6 linked regions of the Homo sapiens genome follow. The protein of the gene in region 2 interacts with the protein of the main gene of each other region in a pairwise test. Each region holds a gene or a part of one and is shown on either strand. Other genes may lie near its edges. The genes, in order: TMEM119, TSHR, MOG, SLC9D1, ASPHD1 and ADORA1.

Region 1 (2,867 bases), on a different chromosome or scaffold from region 2:
GCGGGAGGCTCGGGGAGGAGGCCGACGAGCCCTCGGCCTCCCCACTACCCGCCACATCCTCCAGGAACGTGGCCTTCAGGGGCACAGAGCGGGCGTCGGTAGCAGGCACAGACCCCAGGAGCAGCAACAGAAGGATGAGGAGGCTGGGGGCTGCCGCCGAAACCATGGTGCCCCCAGGACCTGTGAGACAGGAGGGAGGAGAGAAGTCATGGCGGAACTCTAGAGTGTCAGGATTCAGAAACAGGCTCACCAGCCCCCAGGAGGAACAGGGAGCATGAAACACCTTCTAGCAAGTCCCTTCCATTCCCAGGGCCTGAGCCCCGCTGGTTCAGCTGTGGAGTACAGATGTGCTCCCCCACTTCTCTGGAGGTCCCGGAGGTCAGGGGCTGAATCTTATTCATCTCGGCCTCCTCAGGGTTTGGCCCCATATCTGGTATTCAGTAAGTGCTCAATAAATGTACCCTGACTGACGTGGCTGAATTAATAATGATAATTTACACTTTCATGACTTTATGTGTCAGCCACTGTTTTAAGTTTCTTACATGGAACTTCTCAATGAATCCTGATCACTGCCCAGTGTGGGAAGTTCTATGATTAGGCCCATTTTGCAGATGAAAAAACAGAGGCTGAGAGGGACGTGGTGACTTGCCAGGGAAGAGCTGGGTCTGGATCCAAGCAGAGAGGGAGAAATGATAGTAGGGCTGAGTAAGTGAGAAACCGATTGAGTGACTGAGGTTGCTGAGTGACACCTCACCCCCTACCCACAACTCTGGGACCCTTCCCTTCAGTCCCCAGCCTCTCTGTGGTCCCGTTCCCCTCAGGGTCTGGCCCCCATGCACTGGGTGGCCAAAGTGGCTCCGCGCGGCCACAACCTGGTGGTTCAGGGGCTTTCTCAAACCTTCCGCCAGCCCAGCTCTACCTTATTCTGCAAAAGATTCCTAGCAGGGCAGGCGCAGTGGCTCACGCCTGTAATCCCAGCACTTTGGGAGGCCGAGGTGGGCAGATCACTTGAGGTCAGGAGCTCAAGACCAGCCTGGCCATCATGGTGAAACCCCATCTCTACTAAAAATACAAAAATCAGGCAGGCATGGTGTCGTGCCCCTGTAATCCCACCTACTTAGGAGGCTGAGGCAGGAAAATCGCTTGAACCTGGGAGGCGGAGGTTGCAGTGAGCCGAGATCGCGCCACTGCACACTCCAGCCTAGGTGACAGAGCGAGAACCTATCTCAAGAAGAAAAAAAAAAAAAGATTCGTAGGGTTTGAAGCCTCCAGGTCTCTGAGCTAGGCAGGGGTCATGGATGCCAGGGGCATGCATGGACAGCCCCCTGTGGCTGCCCTCACCCCCAGGCTCCAAGCAGGAGCCAGGATGGGCCCCAGGGTGGGGAAGTCCTGGTTCCCAAGACAAAGCTGAGCTGCCGATGCGCCCCGCCCCCACTAGATGGGAACCAGATGAGCCGGGGGCCTCCCTGCCCTGATGGAAGGCTGCTCCCGGGTGAACCCCAAGACCCCACCTGGCCCAGACAGCCCGGCTGATGAATTAATTCCTCATAGCCAGAGTTGACAGAGGAGCTGAGTTTCAAAACACTGTCTCTCCCAGCCAATGTGAGCTGGGGGCTCCCAGCTGCTCAAACCCAGGGACAATTCACTGCACTGTCCTCTGAGAACCCCTGCCCGGCCCAGCAGAGGGCTCAGGTCCCGGAAGCGGGCTTGGGTCTAGAAGCTTCAACACAGAAAAGCCTTAGGATCTCCTGTCCTGAGGCCTCAGGGAACTGAGGTGGAGAGACAGAGGCCCGGAGAAGGCAAAGGGCAGGCCCAGGGCCACACAGCAAGTTCCGGGCTGGAGGAGGAAGCCAGGCTCCCAAGGCCTCGGCTGCGGTCACATCTCCAGCACCTGGGCCTCAGGGCCTGCTTGGTGAAGCAGAGGACACTACCTTCCCCACAGGTACCGTGAGGATTCTGGAGGTGAGGTAGGAACCAGGTTGGGCCATTGAGGGGCTTGTTCCAGGTGACCTGAGGCTTCTCTGTGACACAGCTTTCATTGAAATGGATCGCATCAGCTGGGTGCGGTGGCTCATGCCTGTAATCCCAGCACTTTGGGAGGCCAAGGTGGGAGGATCACCTGAGCTCAGGAGTTCAAGACCAGCCTGGTCAACACGGCAAAATTCTGTCTCTACTAAAAACACCAAAAATTAGCCAGGCCTAGTGGCGCACACTTGTGGTCCCAGGTACCGAGGAGACCGAGGTGGGAGAATCGCCTGAGCCCGGGAAGTTGAGGCTGCAGTGAGCGGAGTTGGCACTGCACTCCAGCCTGGGTGACAGAGCAAGAACCTGTCAAAAAAAAAAAGAAAGAAAGAAAAGAAAAAAAAGAAATTAAATGTGAACAAACTGGCTTAGATGGAAAAAATAAAAAAATAATTCCAGGACATAAAAAGAGGCAAAATTGGCCAGGTGTGGTGGCTCACACTTGTAATCCCAGCACTTTGGGAGGCCGAGGCCGGAGGATTGATTGAGGGCAGGAGTTTGAGCAACATAGTAAGACCCCACCTCTACAAAAAAATAAAAAAGTAGCCAGGCCTGGTGGTGTATGCCTGTAGTCCCAGCTACTTGGGAGGATCGCTTGAGCCCAGGAGTTCAAGACCAGCCTGGGCAACATAAGGAAACCTCCATCTCTATGAAATATATTAAAATATTTCAATTTTTTAAAAAAGAGACAAAGCTTCTCAGGGGCTCATTTTAAATGAGCTGGTCACCTGTGCTTTCCTCGCGGGTACTCATCTAAGCCCTTTTCATGCCTTTAATCCTACAGGAGCCCTGAGGCAGCTTCATTATCCCCATTTTACAGATGAGGAAACAGAGGTTCAGAGACA
Region 2 (3,500 bases):
AATAAGGTATCATAGTTATCATCAAATATTCCTTCTATTCAACCATTCCCATTGGCAAAGAAACATTGCATAATTTCTTCCATTTAAAAACAAAAACACACAAACAAAATCTTTTCTCCTGACTCAATATCTTGCAATTACTGAGCTATTTTCTGCTCCTTTTAATAGTAAAACCTCTCAAAAGAGTTAATTATGGTAACTCTTTCTAATTCTGTCTACCCAAGTCTCTCTTGAGCCCACTCCAACCAGCACTCCACTGGAACTGTTCTTGGCAGAGTCACCAACAAACCACATTGCTAAAGCCAGTGGTTATTTCTCAGTCCTTGCCTTACTTCATGCCAGTGTAGTCACACCTGATCATTGCTTACTCCTTGAAACAATTGCTTTACTTATCTTCAACCTACCCTCATGACTGTATTCTAGTTCTTGTCAGTGACAAACAAAATATTGTCAAACATGGCATGTGTGCATACTTACAGTATAAAGAATATATCAGTGGAATAAACTTTGGTCAGGTCAGGGAACATTTTAAGTCCAGTGTTGAAAATGCCACTAAATTAATGAAAAAAAGAGAAAAAAAAGCATAGAATTTAGGTAAAAAAATCAACACATAGGAAGGAGAATAATGTAATAGCTGAAAGCATGGGTTCTGAAGACAACCTGTAGTCAAACTCCCAACACCTTCCCTAAATATCTGAGTAACTATGGGCAAGTTCTGATGGTTGGATGAGATGATATTCCCTCAAGGCATAATAATTTAATCCAGTCCACTGGTGTCAATACATCTGCTCGGCTTAGAATGCTCTGGAGATTGTTTTAACCAAGTGGGTTTACTAGAAATATAAATTCAGTTTTCGTGTGTGTGTGTGTGTGATTTTCTCGTTTAATTGGAAAAAATTATGTGTTTGTTAGTGAAGGGCTAAGAAGAAGATGGGACAGGAAGATATGATGACTTTAAGCCAGCTTCCTCTTTCAAGCTCTACATGATATTATGCTGTTATTTTGCCAAGAATATCTTTCCTACAGCAGTGACCTGAGAGTACCATTATAACAGTACCATTTAAAAAAATATGTCCAGAGAGCCGGGCACAGGGGCTCACGCCTATAATCCTAACACTTTGGGAGGCCAAGGCAGGTGGATCACTTGAGTCCAGGAATTCAAGACTAGCCTAACATGGCGAAACCCTGTCTCTACTAAAAATACAAAAATTAGCTGCATGTGTTGGCATGCGCCTGTAATCCCAGCTACTTGGGAGGCTGAGGCATGAGAATCACTTGAACCTGGGAGGTGGAGGTTGCAGTGAGCCGAGATCATGCCACTGCACTCCAGCCTGGGTGACAGAGGGCGACTCTGTCTCAAAAAAAGACAGTGTCCAGAAAAGGAAGGAAACCAATCAAAGACAAAGTCTTTACCTTCTGTAGTTTATATCATCTACAGAAAAATGTTAAGATTAAAAGACATGCATAAAACACCATGAATACAAGAATTCTCAGGCTCCTGATGCCTCCCAGATTTAGTTGTTTTAACATTTGTTGCAGCTACTTGAATGTAATTAGAATTTTTTTTTTTTTGAGAATTTGGCATAGCATAGAGTGAGATCTAGACACTACTCAGTAAAGCTCTAGAGAAGGTCTTCTGGTAGAAAAACTATATCCATTGATACTCCTTCTGAGGCAAATTCAGACTTGACTCCTTCTAGAGAAGAAGGCATAGGATTTGAAGAGGCAGCAGGAGCCAGAGGTCTCAAAATCAGCAAATGGGAGGGACATTCCAGATAACAAAGGAGAGAGGTGAGATTCCATAAGGTATATTTGAAATACAGTAAACGAACTAGTTCAATTGCAATAGGTGCTCATGAAGAACAGTAGGAGGGAAAAAGGTCCAAGAGTCAAGTGGGGTCCATATACTTGGATCAAGATCTTTCTATTCTTCAAAAATCTCAAACAAGTCCCTTAAAACCATGCTGTGGGTCTTCTTTCTGATGTCTTCTCTAATTACCTGAACCCCCAAACACTGTATATGTCTCTCCTTCGTCACTTTCCATTATTCTTCTGTAGGAGAGGCACTTTTCAATTTCATACACATCTCCTCAACTAGATTACAGGCAAGGACAATGTCTTAGAAACCTGTATGTTCCCCACAGAGCATATAGTGGGGGATCATCACATCAAAGGGTTATTGTATTATTTGAAACTCAGAGTCCATAAGAAGAGTGATTGTCTTGTCCCATAAGCTTTCATGGCTTTCCAGACATCCTTTCATCTTCATATCCCATCAGTGTCTTCCATTCCCCTGGCATCTCTCACACCCACCTCTTCAATATACAACTATTGGCCAGGCACAGTGGCTCATGCCTGTAGTCCCAGCACTTTGGGAGGCTGAGGCGGGTGGATCACCTGAGGTCAGGAGTTCGACACCAGCCTGGCCAACATGGTGAAACCCCATCTCTACTAAAAATACAAAAATTAGCTGGGCATGGTGGTGCACACCTGTAATCCCAGCTACTCGGGAGGCTGAGGCAGGAGAATCGCTTGAATGCAGGAAGTGGCGGTTGCAGTGAGCCAAGATCACACCACTGCACTCCAGCCTGGGGCAACAGAGCAAGACTCTATCTCAAAAAAAAAAAAAAAAAAGCAACTATTTTTAGTTCCCCAAAGAAGCTGCGTGGTTCCCTACATTTGTGTCTTTATCATGCTATTCCATCCAGCTAAATTTCTTTTCTATCTCCCCATTCTTGTTCAAGATACCCTCTATTCATCCTTAAGGGCTTATCTCATAAAATATCTATGATAACATAAGTTTGTTTTGAAGGTCTGGATGAAGATGAACTGAAATGTTAATAGTGCTTATTTTGGGGTTTGGGATTAAGTTTTTTTTAACAATTTTCTTCTTCATACTCTTTGTTTTCTAATCTTTATAATGCATGCAAGTAGGAAAAAGGACTCTTCCACCTGGTATCCAGGGGGCCTGAGGTCATACAGACACATCCACTGAACACATTTGTACTGAGCGCCTACTCTGTACTAGGCAGTAAAGATTCAACAGAGAAAAAAAATGTTGTGGTCCCTGGATTCATGGAGCTTATGGTTAGCTCATAAGGTGTTTTCAAAGCAAAGCAGTGAGTGCTGGACATTTGAGTGCTGGAGTGGGAGGTTGAAACTGTTGTCCCTTCTGTTTTCCCTCCACTCCCCATGGAAGTGTATTTTACTCTTTGTGGGTTTTTTTTCCTGTGTAACAGCCACTCTAATAATATTGTTGTGATACCCATTTTCAAACAAAATTGACCAACTGGCTCTCAGAATTTTGTTTTGTTTTGTTCTGAAATACTACATTTAAGGACCACATATACATGATAGCATTTTCTCCCTCCTGTTTCTTGGAGCAGGTCTCTGGTTCCAGCATTATGTGCTGACTTTTGAATAGGTTTTAAAAATGTGGATCATTTCACCCGATACCTTGCCCCCGACCCAGGCTATACACCATTAAAATGAACCTGGAC
Region 3 (4,129 bases), on a different chromosome or scaffold from region 2:
TTACCTACTCAAAGGCATTGATTTTGATCCCAATTTCCTTGCTACTCTGAATAATGATGCAACAGACATCCCTAAGCATGAGTTTCTGTTTATTGATGTGTACATTTTTATGGAAATCATTCCCAGGACTGAGATGTTTGGGTTGAGGGATCTCATCTCAGTTGAGAGAATAATTGTTCTTGGCCACCCAACAGTTAATACCTAATATTATATGGCACTACTCACCTTCTACTTTCAATTCCATTGCTGCCTCCTCTTGGTAAGAATGATCTCGGAAGAAGCAGGTGAAACCTCCTTCATCTGAGAACCTTACATTCCGGATCCTGAGAGTCACCTTTCCCTCACCAATAGCATCTTTCAGCAGCTCTGTCCGGCCCCGATATTCAGGTGCCTGGTCTCCATCTTGGTCCTTGCCATTTCTGTAGAGATGAACCACCCTAGAGAAGGGGGGGCGGTACCACCCCACCTCCATGCCTGTAGCGTTCTTCCCAGGAGATATGCGACATGGCAATTCCACTTCATCCCCGACCAGAGCCCGGATAGGGTGTCTTGGTCCTATCACTCTGAACTGCCCTGTCCAAGACACCAAAAGGAAGAGATTTAAGGTCAGAGGGAACCTTGGCAAGCAAGCCTGTCATGAGAAGGGCTGCTTCAAAACAGGGAAGGAAGAAGACACTCGACTTTTAAATGACATTCTAGAGCCAGGGAGGATTGCAATTGTTCTTCTTCTTCTTCTTCCTTTTTATTTATTCATTTATTTTTTGAGACAGTCTTACTCTCTGTCGCCCAGGCTGGAGTGCAGTGGTGCAATCTTGGCTCACTGCAACCTCCGCCTCCCTGCAACCTCCGCCTCCCAGGTTCAAGTGATTCTCCTGCCTCAGCCTCCCGAGTAGCTGGCATTACAGGCACCTACCGCCGCATCCAGCTAATTTTTGTATTTTTAGTAAAGATGAGGTTTCACACTGTTGGCCAGGCTGGTCTCGAACTCCTGACCTCAGGTGATCCGCCTGCCTTGGCCCCAAAGCGCTGGGATTATGGGCATAAACCACCACACCCGGCCTCAAGTTTCCTTCTTGAGAACAACAACGACAAAAAAGACTCTGGTTATAGAGATACTGTGAATGTCCTGGACAGAACATTTTAGCAATCATCTCCTCTCAGCATCTGCCCATCTTTTTGCCAGCTGTAGCCATCTCTGACTCTTCAGCCCAGCCTTTAGGTTCCCTCTTGGAATGTGGCACAGCATCTTGAGGTTGAATCCTCCTATGGGCCTCCCTGTTAGGACTTGGCCAAATTGCTGCCTATTCTACCCTTAGAGGTTTTGCTTTTGTCACTCCATCTACTTTAACTGTCTCTCCATCACTTCTCACTATTCAGTCCTTGTTCATACCTTGTTTCCCAAATTCTCTTCTGAGATCTTCCACCCTGGGGATGGCTCTATTTCCCTCTTCCTTCCCCTGTATCTTCCACCTCACTGTGGCTCCCGGACCCTGACCCGAAAAAGTTCCTTGTTTTTTTCTATGTGGATGTGTTTCTCAAGTCAGATTCTGAGCTACTAAGAAATAAGGCTGCTTTCTCCCCTAGACCTGGAGAGTGGATGCACTGTGCCTCTGTCAGTCAGGTGGCTCCCTGAGGATGGGAAACTTTCTGTTTATTTCTCCTCTGCACGTGACAGCCGGGTTCCTTTATAAAAACCTACTGGTGCCTGATTATGCAGAGCAAAGTCTCAAACATGACAAGATATTATAATTCCACAAACATTTATTGAGATTTACTATGGACAGGCACTGCTAAGCATGTTACATATCTCATTTCATGTAATCCTGATGAGAACTCCAAGAGGTTGTTATTATTTTATCTCAATTTGAGAGGTGAAAAGACAAAGCTGGAAAGACAAGTAAGAAGTAGTTCAAGGAAAGCCTTGAGTTAGTCACATTAAGGAGTCTGGGTCAGACGCAATGGCTCATGCCTGTAATCTCAGCACTTTGGGAGGCTGAGGAGGGCAGACCACTTGAGGTCAGGGGTTCCAGACCAGCCTGGCCAACATGGTGAAACCCCATCTCTACTAAAAATAAAAAAATTAGGCCTAGTGCAGTGGCTCACGCCCATAATCCCAGTACTTTGGGAAGCTGAGGCGGGCGGATCAGCAGGTCAAGAGATCGAGACCATCCTGGCCAACATGTGAAACCCCGTCTGTACTAAAATACAAAAAAAAAAAAAAAAAAAAAGAAAAGAAAAAATTTAGCTGGGTGTGGTGGCAGGCGCCTGTAGTCTCCGCTACTTGGGAGGCCAAGTCAGGAGAATCGCTTGAACCAGGGAGGCTGAGGTTGCAGTGAGCCGAGATCATGCCACTGCACTCCAGCCTGAGCAACAGAGGGAGACTCTGTCTCAAAAAAAAAAAAGAGTCTGGACTCCATCTTGAAGGCTGTAAGAACCACCCACGGAAGGTTTCTGAGGAAGGGAGGCATGTCAGTAGGTCTATGTTTTAGAAAGATAATATAGCAACTTGAGGATGTTTGAAGGAGCTAAGCCCCAGGAAACTAGCCTTTCTGTTTTCAGGGTCTCCCCAGGGCAGGAAAAAAAACATGTCTTACCTGCATAGCTGGAAGACACTTGGAGGAGGAGGAGGAGGAGGAAGGAGCAGAGGCAGCTGGGCAGAGAGGGTCTTGATAAGCTTGCCATCTCTACTGTTCCTGGGGACAGAGAGCCCCCGCAGCAAGGTCAGGCCAAGTGGAGGCCCTTGGGGTGCATGTCCCCTTACTGCTGAAAAGCCCAAGGGAAGATCTTGGAGGGCAGTGCTGCCTGGGCCCTGCCTCCACTCCGGTAATTGCTGCAGCTGTGCCCGCAGAAACAGCCCCACGTCACCCTTGCCAGGCACTCACACAAAAGGGCTACAGACTGAGGGGATGACCAGGGTTTGCCTTCCCCACCCCCCCAGAGCAATGGAGCAGAGGCTGCCTGGTACAGGGCTTTCCTCCCCCACTCCCTCCTGGAGATCCAACCTTTGAAGGGTCTTCTAGGGGCTAATCAGTGGGGCAGGATCACTTACAGGACCTTAGGAAGAGGCTTGTTCATGGAATATGTAAGCTTCCTCCAATCCACCCCAGCCCTACTGACTAGTCAAAAGAGAGAAATTATTATTGGTTCTTAAAAAAAGAAAGAAAACTTAGATTTCTTTTTCCTGTTTCTATTATCTCACAACTGTCATCACCAGACCATTCTTCTTAATGTCTAACCTCCCTTTCTTCTACCGCGAATCCAAACTCTGCCCTGTATGTTTGTATATGTGATAGGTCACTTGGGATTTGTTAGTTTCTTGTTCCCAAAGAATGTTTTTAGGGAAGTCATGAGATGAATGTCAGGTGTGCTCAGAGAGGCAAGGTTGGAGGAAGGGAGACCAGCAAGGGCAGCAACTAACTATGTCAGTCAACACAGGCAGAAGGGACAGAGCCAGCATACAGGACACGCTCTCCAGCCTTCACATCACTTGCCAGTTTCCTCAGTGTCACAGGGGAGAGTGAGATCTGGAATGGAAAATGACCTTTCTCTCACCTCTTGGCTCAGCTGAGAATTGCAAGTGTGAGACCAGCATTGGTAGCAGGTTCCAAAAATAGACTTCCCAATCTTAAGGCAAGTATGCCTCACCAAATAAGGAAAAAAGGCTCAATTTAGAGCCGTGCTGTCCAATGCAGCAGTCACTCCCTGCATGTGGCCACTTAAAATTAATTACAATTAAATAAAATTAAAAATTTGGTTCATTGATTACACTAGCCATGTTTCAAATGCTCAATAGCACTACAGTTAGTGGTTATCTCATCAGACAACACAAATACAGAACATTTCCATCGTCACAAAAAATTATATTGGGCAACACAAAAATTTATATTGGGCAGCAAGGGGTAGAAACACAACTGAGACATACATTTCTGCTTTTGTCCGAGATGGGCGTAAGGAGCTAGAAGGACATTAAGGTCAGCTGAGTTTGGGAACTGCTTATTCTTTCACCCTTCAAGGCAGCCAGCGTTTGGACACAAGCAATGTTTGGCTACTCTGGTGCTGTGTGGTTGAAAGTCAAGATTGCAGGGGTCAATCCCATGGAAAAAGTGGCCGCTGTGGATCTCTGGCTTTT
Region 4 (4,120 bases), on a different chromosome or scaffold from region 2:
AGACAGTACTGTGTTAGACAACAGTACTGATCAGAATTACAAGCAAAAGTCACCAAGAAAAGACTATATTCTGGTTAGAAAGTGTTCAATTCAAAACATTCTTGGAGACTGACTCCCAAAAGGAGAAGCACACTCCACAGAGAATTCACTTACCTAGAACAGGTAACTTCCTAACAAGATAGGATAAATGATAATGTGCTGTTCCAATCACTCAATTTTATGTTAGTTTCAATACAACTTTAAGTACACGTGTACAACTTTAAGTACACATTTACCACCTTAAAAACAAACAATGAGGCAATCACTTAGTCATGCCTAGCCATATAGCTGAGCTGTTATTTTAATGACTCACTCAACTGCTAAGCTTCTCTCGGTTGGTCCAACGGAGCTAAATAAATCAACAGCTACTTCACAAGTGAACTTTTAGTATTTTCCAGAACCAAGACAGAAATCTGAGATGCTTTGCTTACACTTCCCAGTTTCCCCAAAAGATCCCAAAAAGTGATTCTTTGATGGATTTTATGCTTCAGAAAAATAAGTTTCAACACAGCTCATGTGTGAATGACACCTCTATGTTCATTTCTGGTTCCTTCCTCAATCAGGTTCCTAAAATTAGTTGTCCCTCTAAGGGAGCTATAATTTTTATGAGAAACCTTTGAGGATTTTAGTTGTAGTTATACTAAAATTTCCCACTGAAACATACTCATAACATGAAACTGAAATTATTTATGGACCCTTAAAATACAAATCACCTTTATTCAAACTCATTTCATTTTATCTTCAAACTTGCCTCCAAAATCCTACTGACTACTAAATTGTAGCATGTTTTTTGAGCAAATTAGTAAACATCTTTAGCTGTTCTAGTTATTAAAAAGACACTTTGGATTCCTGTAATGTGTTTTTTTTGTTGTTGTTGCTGTTTGAGACGGAGTTTTGCTCTTGTCACCCAGGCTGGAGTGCAGTGTTGTGATCTCAGCTCACTGCAACCTTTGCCTCCCGGGTTCAAGCAATTCTCCTGCCTCAGCCTCCCAAGTAGCTGGAATTACAGGCGCTCGCCACCACACCCAGCTAATTTTTGTATTTTTAGTAGAGACGGTGTTTTGCCATGTTGGCCAGGCTGGTCTCAAACTCCTGACCTCAGGTGATCCACCCACCTCAGCCTCCCAAAGTGCTGGGATTACTTTTTAAATAATGAATTCTTAGAATTTCTGCATCTTGAGCAATTGATACACATAACAATGCGGATGTATCTCAAGGCTGAGTGAAAAAAAATCTCAATTTTATTGAGAAGACACACAGGTGTAGATTCACACTCACTAGTGCATGTATAGTTGGTGCAATCTCAACAGGTCAGGGGATTTGATCAAAGAAAATTCCCCACATATACTATGGTTTTGCAAGGTGCTACCATTGGAGAAAACAGGGCAAAGGCACTCTGTAGGATTTCTCTGTATTACTCCTTACAACTTCATGTGATCTACAACCATCTCAAAATAAAAAGGTTTTCAAATTCTACCTAAGACCAGGTGCGGTGGTTAATGCCACTGCTGTATTACGACACAATTATCTGTATTCCCAGCGCTCTGGGAGGCTGAGGTGGGCGAACTGCTTGAGGTCAGGAGTTGGAGATCATCCTGGGCAACACAGCAAGACCCTGTCTCTATTAAAAATGAAATAATTAGCCGGGCGTGATGCTCCCTGTGGCCCCAGCTCCTGGGGAGGCTGAGGCGGGAGAATCGCTTGAGCCTTGACCAGCCACTGCACTCCAGCCTGGGCGACAGCAAAACTCTGTCTCAACAACCACAAAAAAGCTTTAGAATATTTAAGTCAAGCCTGTAGGAGAAAAAAACTACAAATATTTCACAAGTAATCCAATCATTAAGACACTCCTTTTGAAAAAGCCGGTAAATAAGATAAATTTGGAAGACAGAATAATCAGAAAAACAGGCAGTGAATAGGGACCCGATACGCAGCGGTCTTGCTTCCCCCGCGCAGGCGTCCACACCCTGGGTCATGGACACCGTGAGGAGCCGTTAGGAGTCACAGGAGGGGGGCCAGGGACAGGGCTGCATCTCTGCGGCCGGCCCTGGAGGCCCCGAGTCCACCCGGGCGGCCAGGGTGGGAACGCAGGTTCCATTCCAGGTTAGAACGTGGGCCTCAGCGAAGAGCGCCTAGGCAAGGCCTGGAGGAGCGGGACCCCAGGCCACACAGACCACCCGACCCCGGGAGACAATACCTGCAAGAAAAGGGGAGCCCCGAGGAGAGAGAGAGGGGAGGTGAGCCCCAGGGAGGGAGAGAGAGGAGGGGAGCCCCAGGGAGGGAGGGAAGGAAGGAAGGGGACCCCTGGGAAGGGAAGAAGGGAATGGGAGCCCCGGGGAGGGAGAGAGGGGAGCCCCAGGGAGGGAGGGAAGGAAGGAAGGGGACCCTTGGGAAGGGAAGAAGGGAAGGTGAGCCCCGGGGAGGGAGAGAGGGGAGGGGAGCCCCAGGGAGGGAGGGAAGGAAGGGGACCCCGGGAAAGAGCCCCGGATGGACGGGCCTGGTGCTCACCGGGACGCAGGGATCCGCGCCCGCCCGTCCGGCCCGAGCATCACCGTTCCGCGGCCTGGGCCGGGCTCTGAGGCGCCAGGACCCGAGGGGCGGAGGGGGACGCTGTCTCCCGCCTCGGAGCGCAGCGCCGGAGGGCTTCCTTGCATCCCTTCCCAGGCGGGACCAGGGAGGCCGGGAGGCCGGGAGTCCGGGAGGGAGCGGCCGCCGCCCTGCCCAGCACCGCCCCCGCTCAGCCAAGCCGACCCGGACTCCCGCCCAGCCGCAGTCACTGCCCCCTTTAAGAGGCGGGGCGTGGGCGGGTCCCGTCGGCCGCGGGCGGCGAGCACTTCCTGGCCGGCGTGGGGCCTGGCAGCCGCAGGCTGGCGTTGGACCCCGCAGGGGCGAGCCAAGGCCCTCGCAGAGGGCTGGACGCGCAGGGGCTGTGGGGCGCGAGCTCCCGTGGGCCCCCGGGCGGCGCTGAGCATGCCGGGAGTGGGAGTCCCCGCGGCCGGCTCCCGGCACTGCCCCGGAGCCGAGGGCCGCGGCCGTCCGAGGACGAGGGCGGAGCCGCCGCCGCGCCTGCGCAGAAGGCCGGGGCCGGCCAGAAGCGGGCGGCGCGGGGGAGATGGTAGGTGGCCCGGCGTCGCCTCTGCCCGTCGGGGTCGGGGTCGGGGTCGGGCCCCAAGGTCGGCGCAGGCGGCGCGCTGGATGTGGGAGGCCGAGCCCAGCGAGCTGCGCGGGGCGTTCCGCGTGGATCCGAGGGAGGAACGCGCCGCGGGCCCGCGAGCCGGAGCGGTGGCGTCGGAGGCGCGGGACCGCGGGGAGCGCGGGTTTGACCCGGAGCCGCGAGGGACGACCGGGAGTGAGCGGAGGGCGGGGGCCGGGAGGAACTGTAGGGGCCTTGGGGCAGGGGCCGGGGCCGAGCGGGAACCCAGGCCGGGGGCTTCCCAGGGCGGCTTCGAAACGGGCAGTCGAGGCGGGCGAGGGCTCGGCTGCTCCTGCGGGCGTCTGTGCAGATGCTGAGGCTGTTGACCAAAACAGCGCAAGGAAGGAATCCGCGAGAAGCTCAGATTCGCGGGGGAGGCCCTGCTGCCGGGAGGGGAGGGAGAGGCACAGCGGGGCCCTAGCGCGGGCTCTAGCCGGGAGCTGTAGCGTGGCTGTAGGTGTGCATCTGTGGAGCTGGTAGAGTTCCGCAGCGCAGGAGGGAGGCTGCTGGAGGTGCACATCAGTTACTTTGAAATGTGGTGGAAATGGTGATGGATGGGATTTATTCAGTCCACATCGGTTCAGAGGCCAGCAAGGTGCTGCTGGGTGTGACTGGTGCTGGGCCAGGCATGATCTTGGCGTTGAGGGAGTTGATGCCCCAGCAGGGGAGACAGGCACCAGATGCACAATTGTTTGACCACAGTTGGGACAAAGGCTAAGGCACGGGTTCCAGGAACTTGTAGGATGCGGCTGTGGGAGTGGTGTCAGATGCTGAGGGTGTGAGTTGAACTGTGGAGAATTTCTCTGGAAATTAGCCAGAGAAAAAGTGAGGTTCCGGGGCAGCCAGCCGTGTGCGGCTCCAGGCAGAAGAAACAGAATGCACAGACCC
Region 5 (4,165 bases), on a different chromosome or scaffold from region 2:
TTTTTTTTTTCCTCGTAGGAGTCAGCAAAGAAAGACAATTTCTCTGCCCCTTGGGATGGAGGGGCAGAATTGGGCTAGGGGTCGCCTGGAGCCCACCCCCCTTTGCTCAGTCTCCTCTGTCCTCTTCTCGCGGCTCTGTGGTGGAGGGGGCGCGGCTCCGGCTGCAGGGGGTGGGGCCGAGAGGGCCGAAGGGGCCGGGTGGCCTGGGTTACCCTCCTGCTCAGGCGCCTGGGTCCACTGGGCTGTCTGGACCCCAAGCTAGGGGACTGGGGAGGAGAAAGACAGCTTCTGGGGGTTTAGGGTGGGGTCGAGGATCGAGGGGGTCTCCACTGGGCTCTAGCGGGGCTTGTCGGGGAGGGGAAGGGGTGGGTTGGGGAACTGGGAGAGCCGAAGCTCGGGCACTGGAGCTGCGGGAGGGAGAAGCTGAGAAAGGTATCGAGCCCACGTCAGATCCTGGGGACGGGCGGAGGGAGGGGCCTGGGATTTATTTGACGGGGAGGGAGGAGGAGGAAGTGCAGATGGAGGAGGGAGGGATCATACGAGCCAGGGCCGTAATCCTCACTCCCGCGGCCCCTAGGGGAGGCAAAGGAAACTCTCTGGTCCCAGCAGTAATTAGCCCCCTCCGCCTGCCATTCCAGCACATCTGGAATCTGAATCTCCTCTTCCCAGGGTGCCGAGGGGCTGCATAGCTTGGTTCGCGCCTGCTAGGCCCCCAATTATGCCCCCTGTTCACATTCAGACCTCCCAAGGGGCTTCCCTTCCCCTTTTACAGTAGCTCGGGTGGAATGGGCTCTCCCTCCTCCAGGGGAATAGAGAGCTTCCACGATTGTGACAAGTCTCGTGGGTGACGGGCCGGGGTTTGGGGAGGAGAGACAGACCCCTCCTCTTCCATAAACCCTGACCCCGGCCAGCTAACAGGCGGCCTCGGCTCTGATTTTCCCTCCGGAGCGCCCTTTTCAGCACCAGCGGCGCGCGGACAGCTCCCCTCGCCCCGCCGGGGCGGGCCCGGCCCGACGCCGCCCGCGATTGGCTGAGGCCGCTTTCGGTGTTTGCCAGGCTCGCGGGCTCCCGGGCTGCCTAGGGCCAGCGGGAGTCACAGGCCGACCGACCGACGGACCAGCCGCCCGACGGACTGGCCTCAGCATCCTTGCCCGCAGTCCCGGGCGCCTGCCCAGCCGTCAGTCCGCGCTCGCCCCGCCCCTCAGGCCCCGCCCCTCAGGCCCCGCCCGATACGACCCGCCCCTTCTTTCGCATTGCGGGACGGCTGGAGGCTGGCACCGTGGCCCCTGCGCCCCACGTGGCGCCCTTTCCGGGCGGGGGGGGTGGGGAGGCACCTCCAGCGACAACTCTCCCCCCTCCCCCGGCACCCGGCTGATTTGCTGTGCCACTGGGAGGGTTCGGGGGTGGCTGAGCTGAGAGGGCTCCGGGAAGGAGTGACGTCAGGGTGAGTGGGAGCCCAGGAAGGAGCGAGTAGGAGAGAGGGAGCGAGAGCCAGGCAGGACCGCAGGGTCGGGGCTAGTGAGGAGCGAGGGCAAGGAGAGAGCAGTGAGGCCGGAGAGAAAGAAGCTGCCGCGGAGGAAGACAGGCTGCGGGTTCCCGGGACTGCAGGTCCAGGCAGGGTAGGAACCGCTGCCCAGGGGAGCTAGGAGGAAGCGGGGAGAGAGAGCGAGCGAAAAGCGGGGGTGGGGAGGAAAGGGGGAGATTGAGGTGGGAGAGAGAAGCAGAGCGAGAGAGAGGAGGCTGCTGGAAGGAGAAAGAAGAGGGTGAGGAGGCGACAGAGGGAGAGGAGGAAGAAGAGGTAGAAGGAGAGAGAAAGGGGAGAGAAAGGAGAGAGGAGGGTTGGAGGTGCATGAAGGAGGGGAGAGGGAGCTTCAGCGTGGAGAGAGGACCGCGGAAGGAGAGAGAGACAGCCCAGAGTGGAATGTGGAAGGGAAACAGTCCAGCGGGGAGCCAGGGGGCAGCCATGGAAGGGACAGGTGGGGAGCTGGGGGGACAGGGGAACTGGGGTCCGGAGGACGCCCCAGGCCTCTTGGCCAGGGCCTCCCTGATCATGCTCCCGTGGCCACTACCCCTGGCCTCCTCGGCCCTCACCTTGCTCTTCGGGGCCCTCACTTCCCTGTTCCTCTGGTACTGCTACCGCCTGGGCTCCCAAGACATGCAGGCCCTAGGGGCTGGGAGCCGAGCTGGGGGTGTTCGTGGTGGGCCTGTGGGATGCTCGGAGGCCGGCGGGCCAAGCCCAGGGGGTCCTGGGGATCCCGGGGAAGGACCTAGGACGGAAGGCCTAGTGAGCCGGCGGCTTCGGGCCTACGCAAGGCGCTACTCCTGGGCTGGGATGGGTAGAGTGAGGCGGGCAGCTCAGGGTGGCCCAGGCCCTGGGAGAGGGCCAGGGGTCCTAGGTATTCAGCGCCCAGGCCTGCTTTTCCTACCAGACCTGCCTTCAGCCCCCTTTGTGCCGCGGGACGCCCAGCGGCACGACGTGGAGCTCCTGGAGAGCAGCTTCCCTGCCATTTTGCGGGACTTCGGGGCTGTGAGCTGGGACTTCTCAGGGACTACCCCTCCGCCTCGGGGCTGGTCCCCACCTCTGGCCCCCGGGTGCTACCAGCTCCTGCTGTACCAAGCAGGCCGGTGCCAACCCAGCAACTGCCGCCGGTGCCCGGGGGCCTATCGGGCACTGAGGGGGCTTCGAAGCTTTATGAGTGCCAACACCTTCGGCAATGCCGGCTTTTCCGTTCTCCTGCCTGGGGCCCGGCTCGAGGGCCGCTGTGGGCCCACCAATGCCCGGGTCAGATGCCATCTGGGTAAGTAGCTGCCGCCTACTGACAACCTCCTTGCCTCGATGATTTCCCCCCCAGACCCTTCTCTCCGCCAGAGCCGTCTGCTGTCTGGTTCTCATTGTGCCTCTCTTCTTCCATGGCTCCCTGTTGCCACCCACAGCAGCATTTCCTCAGCCTCGGTTATCTGCACACCACCTTCATAAGCTTTGCCGTGGTCATTCCCATCTGTACTGCGTTTCTTCACCTTGGCTCTCCCCCCGACCTTTTGTTCTACGTATTTAAAAGAAATATTTATAGCACTATCAGTATTACTTGCCCTAAATAGTACTCATAAAAAGCCTGGACAACACAGTGAGACCTTGTCTCTACAAATAATAAAACAATTAGCCGGGCGCGGTGGCCCATGCCTATGGTCCCAGCTACTGGAGAGGGTGAGGTGGGAGGTTCACTGGAGCTCAGCAGTTTGAGGCTGCAGTGAGCTGAGATTGTGCTACTGCACTCCAGCCTGGGTGACAAGAAAGTACTCATAAACACAAGCTGAAATTTAAAAAAGAAAGCTTTCAACAGTCTAGAACATTCTAGTTAAGTGCTCTAGTCTCTCTGATCCTGAAGCCTACACTTTTTTCTTTTTTGAGGAGTCTCGCTCTGTCGCCCAGGCGAGAGTGCAGTGGCACGATCTTGGCTCACTGCAAGCTCCACCTCCCGGGTTCATACCATTCTCCTGCCTCAGCCTCCCGAGTATCTGGGACTACAGGCACCTGCCACTACACCTGGCTAATTTTTTTTTATTTTGTATTTTTAGTGAAGACAGGGTTTCACCATGTTAGCCAGGATGGTCTCCATCTCCTGACCTCGTGATCAATCCGCCTCGGCCTCCCAAAGTGCTGGGATTACAGGCATGAGCCACCGTGCCTAGCCCTACACCTTCTTTTTTAAAAGGGTTGGTGGGGTGTCAAAGTTACAGTAGCACCAAACTGAGATTTTTTCTTTTTCTTTTTTTTTTTTTTTTGAGACAGGGTCTCACTCTGTCACCCAGGCTGGAGTGCAGTGGCACAAACATGGCTCACTACAGCCTTAACCTCCTGAGATCAAAGGATCCTCTCACCTCAGCCTCCTGAGTAGCTGGGACCACAGGTGCCCACCACCATGCTTGGCTGATTTTTTAAAAATTTACGTAGGCCAGGCGCGGTGGCTCACGCCTGTAATCCCAGCACTTTGGGAGGCTGAGGCAGGCGGATCACCTGAGGCTGGGAGTTCGAGACCAGCTGACCAACATGGAGAAATCCTGTCTCTACTAAAATTACAGAAAATTAGCTGGGTGTGGTGTCGCATGCCTGTAATCCCAGCTACTCGGGAGGCCGAGGCAGGAGAATCACTTGAACTCGGGAGGC
Region 6 (4,196 bases), on a different chromosome or scaffold from region 2:
GTTCCCTTATTCACCCCACCTTCCCTGGAAAACCTGGAGGGTGGAGGGAGGTAGACAGGGCAGAGAGACTGGCATCAAGCCACTGGGCATGGGGAATCAGGAAGGAAGGCAGATAATTAGATCACACTTCTGAGTGAGCTTCAAGGAGACCCTCTGAGTCTTAGTTTCCCCCTTTAAAAGCTCCTGCTCCACCTCCCTTACAGCGGCGTGATGATAACAGGAAAAAATCATGCATGTAAGAAAGGCTTTGAAAAGTTAAATGTGCACAAATGTAACACAAAGGGAGAAACATGGGTCCCTAGGCCTGCCCGGGCAAGGGGCCAAGTGAGGTCAGAGGCCCTACATCCCAGAGAAGCTATGCCGGGGGTGGCAGGTGCTGGAGATGGCCAGAGCTCCCCAGGAGAAAAGGAATCTACTGGGGGCAAGAATTCAAAGAGGGGGCAAGCATGCCTCACAAGAGCGTCCCAGCAGGGCCAGTCCCTGGCAATATGCCCAGGCACTCGCTGGCACTTGGTGGCCCAAGGCACTGCCTGGTGATGAGATTGTGGCCTGGCAGGGAGCTCCAACATGGGCTGGACACCCACACTGAGGACGGCACCAGCAGGCCACCCATCCCAGTGCTGCCTGGGAGCAGCACAAGCACCTCTACTGTGACCAGCAAAGAGGTGGTTTTGCAACAGAACAGCAATATGAGAAGTAGGCACCAGCATTTTTCCTTCCTCCTGTCTGTAACAGAGGTCCCATAAGTGGGAGTGAGGCAAAGGTAATCAGACTGTTGGGTTCAGCTGGAAAGCCCTGGAAGGAACAGCTGGCTAGCACAGAGATACCTGGTGAATGAGAGAGCCAAAGCGTGCCTTTGGGAAGCCTGCCGTGGTCTGGCTGGAGAAGCAGCACTCCTGCCCCTGTTGTGCCACCCTCAGTATGTTCCCACCCCACCCTAACTCTCTTCTCTGCCTCTTCCTCTTCCTCTTCCCTGGGACTGGCAGAGCTCAGCTCATTCCTACCCAGCACTCACTGTGACCCCATCTTAGTGGCTCTTCCAAATCTCCCACCTCCACCCCAGGCCTGACAGGCAGCCTCAGGTTCCCTGGCTGCAAGAGCTTCAGCTCTGAGGTCATGGGCACTGGTAAGTTCACAGTACAGTCCTCCAGCCACCCATCCCCCTCCTGTTTCTCTGGCCCTGCAGAGCGGAGCACGGAAAGGCAGAGTGAGGACTGGAGCACGATGGCCCAAAGAACATCTGGCTTACTTGGGGTCTTATGCTCTACCTTTTTTCCTTTCTAGATGGCCCTCAAGCCAGCCATCATGTGGTGCTGCGAGTACCTTCGGCGCTGTGGACTCACCGGAGAGGGATCTTGACCCGGAGGTAGCGGTCCACAGCAATTGCCAGCAGGGCCAGGATGGAGCTCTGGGTGAGGATGAGGACCGGACAGGCAACCATGAGGCAGGTGTGGAAGTAGGTCTGTGGCCCAATGTTGATGAGGATGGCGAGGGGGATGACCAGGGCACCCACGGCCACATCAGCCACCGCCAGCGACACGATGAAGCAGAAGGTGGCATCCCGCAGCGCCTGGTTCACCTTCACCGCCCAGATCACCAGCACGTTCCCGGGCACAGAGACCAGGGCGATGAGCACCTCGATGCCGATGTAGGCGGCCTGGAAAGCTGAGATGGAGGGCGGCATGGCGGGCACAGGCTGGGCACATCAGCAGACGGGCACCAAGGGGCACGAGGCAAGCACCTGTGTGGTCAGGGAAGCCTGGGATGGGGAGACCCGTCTGGGAGGGGCAGGGAGCTCAGGCTGCCCTGGAACTCCAGGTACCCTGTGATGTGTCCCACTTGTCACATGCAGCTCCTACCCAGGCTGGAGGGGCACCCGGACCCTTCTCTGCCTAATCTTTGTCCCTTCCCTTTATCATTCCCAGAGGTTCCATTCAGCAACTTAAAATAGCAGCGCTCACTCCTCCACTGGCTTTTTTATCAGGTGTGAGGCAGCTCCCAGCGCGCGCGCACACACAGACACACGCACAGAGGGGTCTCCCATGACTGGCTCTGCCCACCCCTGTGCACAGAACAGGATGCAGGGAGCTCACCATCCTGCCTGCTGGCCGGCAGGGGTCCCAGAGGCAGTGCCCAAAGTTCCAGGGAACAGAGCTCCGGGCCGCGCGCGGTAGGGCTGGGCTGGGCTCTGGACAACGCGCGGCAGCTCATAGTCCTCCGGCTCCCGCCGCAGCGCTCCCAGCCCGGCCTTTCAAGCAATCACATGGTACGGCAGAGACTCAGCCCCGGACGCTTTTAAAGAGGTAGCGCCCCTGTTTCGCACCTGGGACTGGGGTGGCAGACGTGGGTCTGGGGACGGAGCCCAGGACAAGGCTGGGGCGTTTCTCCCTATTCCCCAGCGTGCCCGCACCTGCCCTGCGCCCACCCACTTGAGACCCGTCTGGTGCCTGGATCTTAGCAGTCCTCTGGTCCCGTTCCAGCTCTGTCGGGGAACCTTGCCCATGGCCTGCCCCAAGGGGGCATTCCGGTCTCTTCTTTCAACCCTCTCCTGCACCCCCATTGGGGAGCCCCAGGGGTGAACCGAGACTCAGACTTACCCAAGGTCACCAAAGCTGGCAGAGCTCCCGGCTGCCTGACTGTTCTGTCCAAGTGCCCCCACACCTCGACGCCTTCAGCAGCCGCTAGCTCCAGGGATTCCTGGGGAAGCCAAGGCCGGCCGGTAAGCTCCAGAGGGATGGTAGCTGGCTGGGACTCGACTCGGGCGCCTGCGGCTCTGTCGCCCCCGGCGCAGGAGCTGAGTGACAATCGGGCTCCGCACACCGGGAGGGGGCGGGGGCGGCGGCGGCACCCGCCAGCCCCTCCCTCCTCATCCTCCGTCTCCTCCCCCACCCCCTCCTCTTAACAAAGGAAGTGATACTGGGTGAGAAAAGCTGGAAAAAATGTGAGCTTTTCGAAGGGCCTGGTGTGTGCGCCCAGCCTCAGGACTGGACAGAGGCGCATCCTTCCTGTGTCCACTCTCTCCCTTCTCAATGCAGGACTCCTGGGAGCCCTGGTCTGGCCTCCAGCGACCCCTCACCCCTCACGGCACAGCATCTCTTCTGCAGGACTTCAGAATGCCCCCTCTGGGATCTCCCAAAGCAGTCGGTAGCCCTGGCACCCTCCCCCAATCCTAAAACCCTGCTCTCTCCATGAAACCAGTCCCTGCATCTTCTCATCCCATATTGTTTTGCAGGCTCTACCCTGAGTCATTATATTCCTTTCTCATCCATCTTTCAGAATTGCCTTTTAGTCTATTAGCAATTTCTATTTTGCAGATAAGGATGCTGAGGCTCAGGGAAGTGACCTAGCTTCCCAGGATCTCCTGGCAGTGTAACCCGCTCTGCGCTCCTTTTCCTTCCTCCTTCTTCCTCTTCATAGCACAGCGCTAAGCCATAAGGCATCCAGTCCAATCCCCTCATGTTACAGATAAAGAAGCAGGCTCAGGGAAGCAAGGGACTTCCGGAGGGTCACAGGGCAAATCCTAACAGGACCAAAATAAGAATCCCAGGCTCCTGACTCTCTCCACTGGGTCCAGACCCCTCCCCTGGCCACCTTCTGCCAGTTTCGGTTTAGGCAGTCCACTGATATTAACTAATGACCAGACCCTGGACATGGATGGATGCCTCGCAGAGATCCCAACCTGAGAAATCCTTGTTTGTGGGTATTGGGCAAGGGTTCTAGGAAGGCAAAGAGAGTCAGGCTGGGGACCCCAATGTTAGCTAGCCACAACCCAACCTGGCCTCTGGGGGTACTGCCCCCCTCACTGGATCTCAGAATGCAAGGAAAAGGGTTCTGCCCAGAGGAGGGTGGGCACGTTGCTCCCATTGGGGGCTGCACTGAATCACAGTGAGGAATGATGTGGGACCCGGAACCTGGGTAGCTGGGAGGCAGGGAGGAAGGGCAGTTGAGTCTTCTGAGGAGGAGGGGGAAGCCCTCTGTGGGGAAAAATAACTTCCATTTCTGCCTTTAGGGGGAGCAAGGAATCAGTGCCTCAGACAGCAAAATTACATTCCTTCCCTAGAAGCTAGTTGGAGAAATTAGGAAGTGTAAACTCTCCTTCCTCCTCGTCCCCTTGCACTTCCCCTGCTGACTTTGTCAACACGCCCAACAGCACCTGACGTCCTGCCTACTCCCCCTGCCACCCAGACATGCAGGCC

Evidence for each region.
Region 1: the proteins of TSHR (region 2) and TMEM119 interact in a two-hybrid assay, tested with the Homo sapiens proteins (one large-scale study listed by BioGRID and IntAct).
Region 3: the proteins of TSHR (region 2) and MOG interact in a two-hybrid assay, tested with the Homo sapiens proteins (one large-scale study listed by BioGRID and IntAct).
Region 4: the proteins of TSHR (region 2) and SLC9D1 interact in a two-hybrid assay, tested with the Homo sapiens proteins (one large-scale study listed by BioGRID and IntAct).
Region 5: the proteins of TSHR (region 2) and ASPHD1 interact in a two-hybrid assay, tested with the Homo sapiens proteins (one large-scale study listed by BioGRID and IntAct).
Region 6: the proteins of TSHR (region 2) and ADORA1 interact in a two-hybrid assay, tested with the Homo sapiens proteins (one large-scale study listed by BioGRID and IntAct).

What each region holds. Positions count from the first base shown.
Region 1 is NC_000012.12:108,592,218-108,595,084, forward strand, and holds part of TMEM119 (transmembrane protein 119 precursor), read right to left. Parts: intron 2,329-2,867; exon of another isoform or gene 2,120-2,328; intron 181-2,119; 5' UTR 167-180; coding exon 1-166. UniProt on the Homo sapiens protein: Plays an important role in bone formation and normal bone mineralization. Promotes the differentiation of myoblasts into osteoblasts.
Region 2 is NC_000014.9:81,088,121-81,091,620, reverse strand, and holds part of TSHR (thyrotropin receptor isoform 1 precursor), read right to left. Parts: exon of another isoform or gene 553-3,500; coding exon 478-552; exon of another isoform or gene 1-477. UniProt on the Homo sapiens protein: Receptor for the thyroid-stimulating hormone (TSH) or thyrotropin. Also acts as a receptor for the heterodimeric glycoprotein hormone (GPHA2:GPHB5) or thyrostimulin. The activity of this receptor is mediated by G proteins which activate adenylate cyclase.
Region 3 is NC_000006.12:29,655,763-29,659,891, reverse strand, and holds the start of MOG (myelin-oligodendrocyte glycoprotein isoform alpha1 precursor), read right to left. Parts: upstream 2,801-4,129; 5' UTR 2,683-2,800; coding exon 2,595-2,682; intron 574-2,594; coding exon 226-573; intron 1-225.
Region 4 is NC_000013.11:113,489,701-113,493,820, reverse strand, and holds the start of SLC9D1 (transmembrane and coiled-coil domain-containing protein 3 isoform 1 precursor), read right to left. Parts: upstream 2,801-4,120; 5' UTR 2,548-2,800; exon of another isoform or gene 1-2,547. Other genes in the region: DCUN1D2 (DCN1-like protein 2), read left to right, coding at 3,152-3,388. UniProt on the Homo sapiens protein: Probable Na(+)/H(+) antiporter.
Region 5 is NC_000016.10:29,899,123-29,903,287, forward strand, and holds the start of ASPHD1 (aspartate beta-hydroxylase domain-containing protein 1), read left to right. Parts: upstream 1-1,365; 5' UTR 1,366-1,849; coding exon 1,850-2,798; intron 2,799-4,165.
Region 6 is NC_000001.11:203,126,330-203,130,525, reverse strand, and holds the start of ADORA1 (adenosine receptor A1), read right to left. Parts: upstream 2,801-4,196; 5' UTR 2,598-2,800; intron 2,249-2,597; 5' UTR 2,212-2,248; coding exon of another isoform or gene 2,094-2,211; intron 1,742-2,093; 5' UTR 1,685-1,741; coding exon 1,344-1,684; exon of another isoform or gene 1,269-1,343; intron 1-1,268. UniProt on the Homo sapiens protein: Receptor for adenosine. The activity of this receptor is mediated by G proteins which inhibit adenylyl cyclase.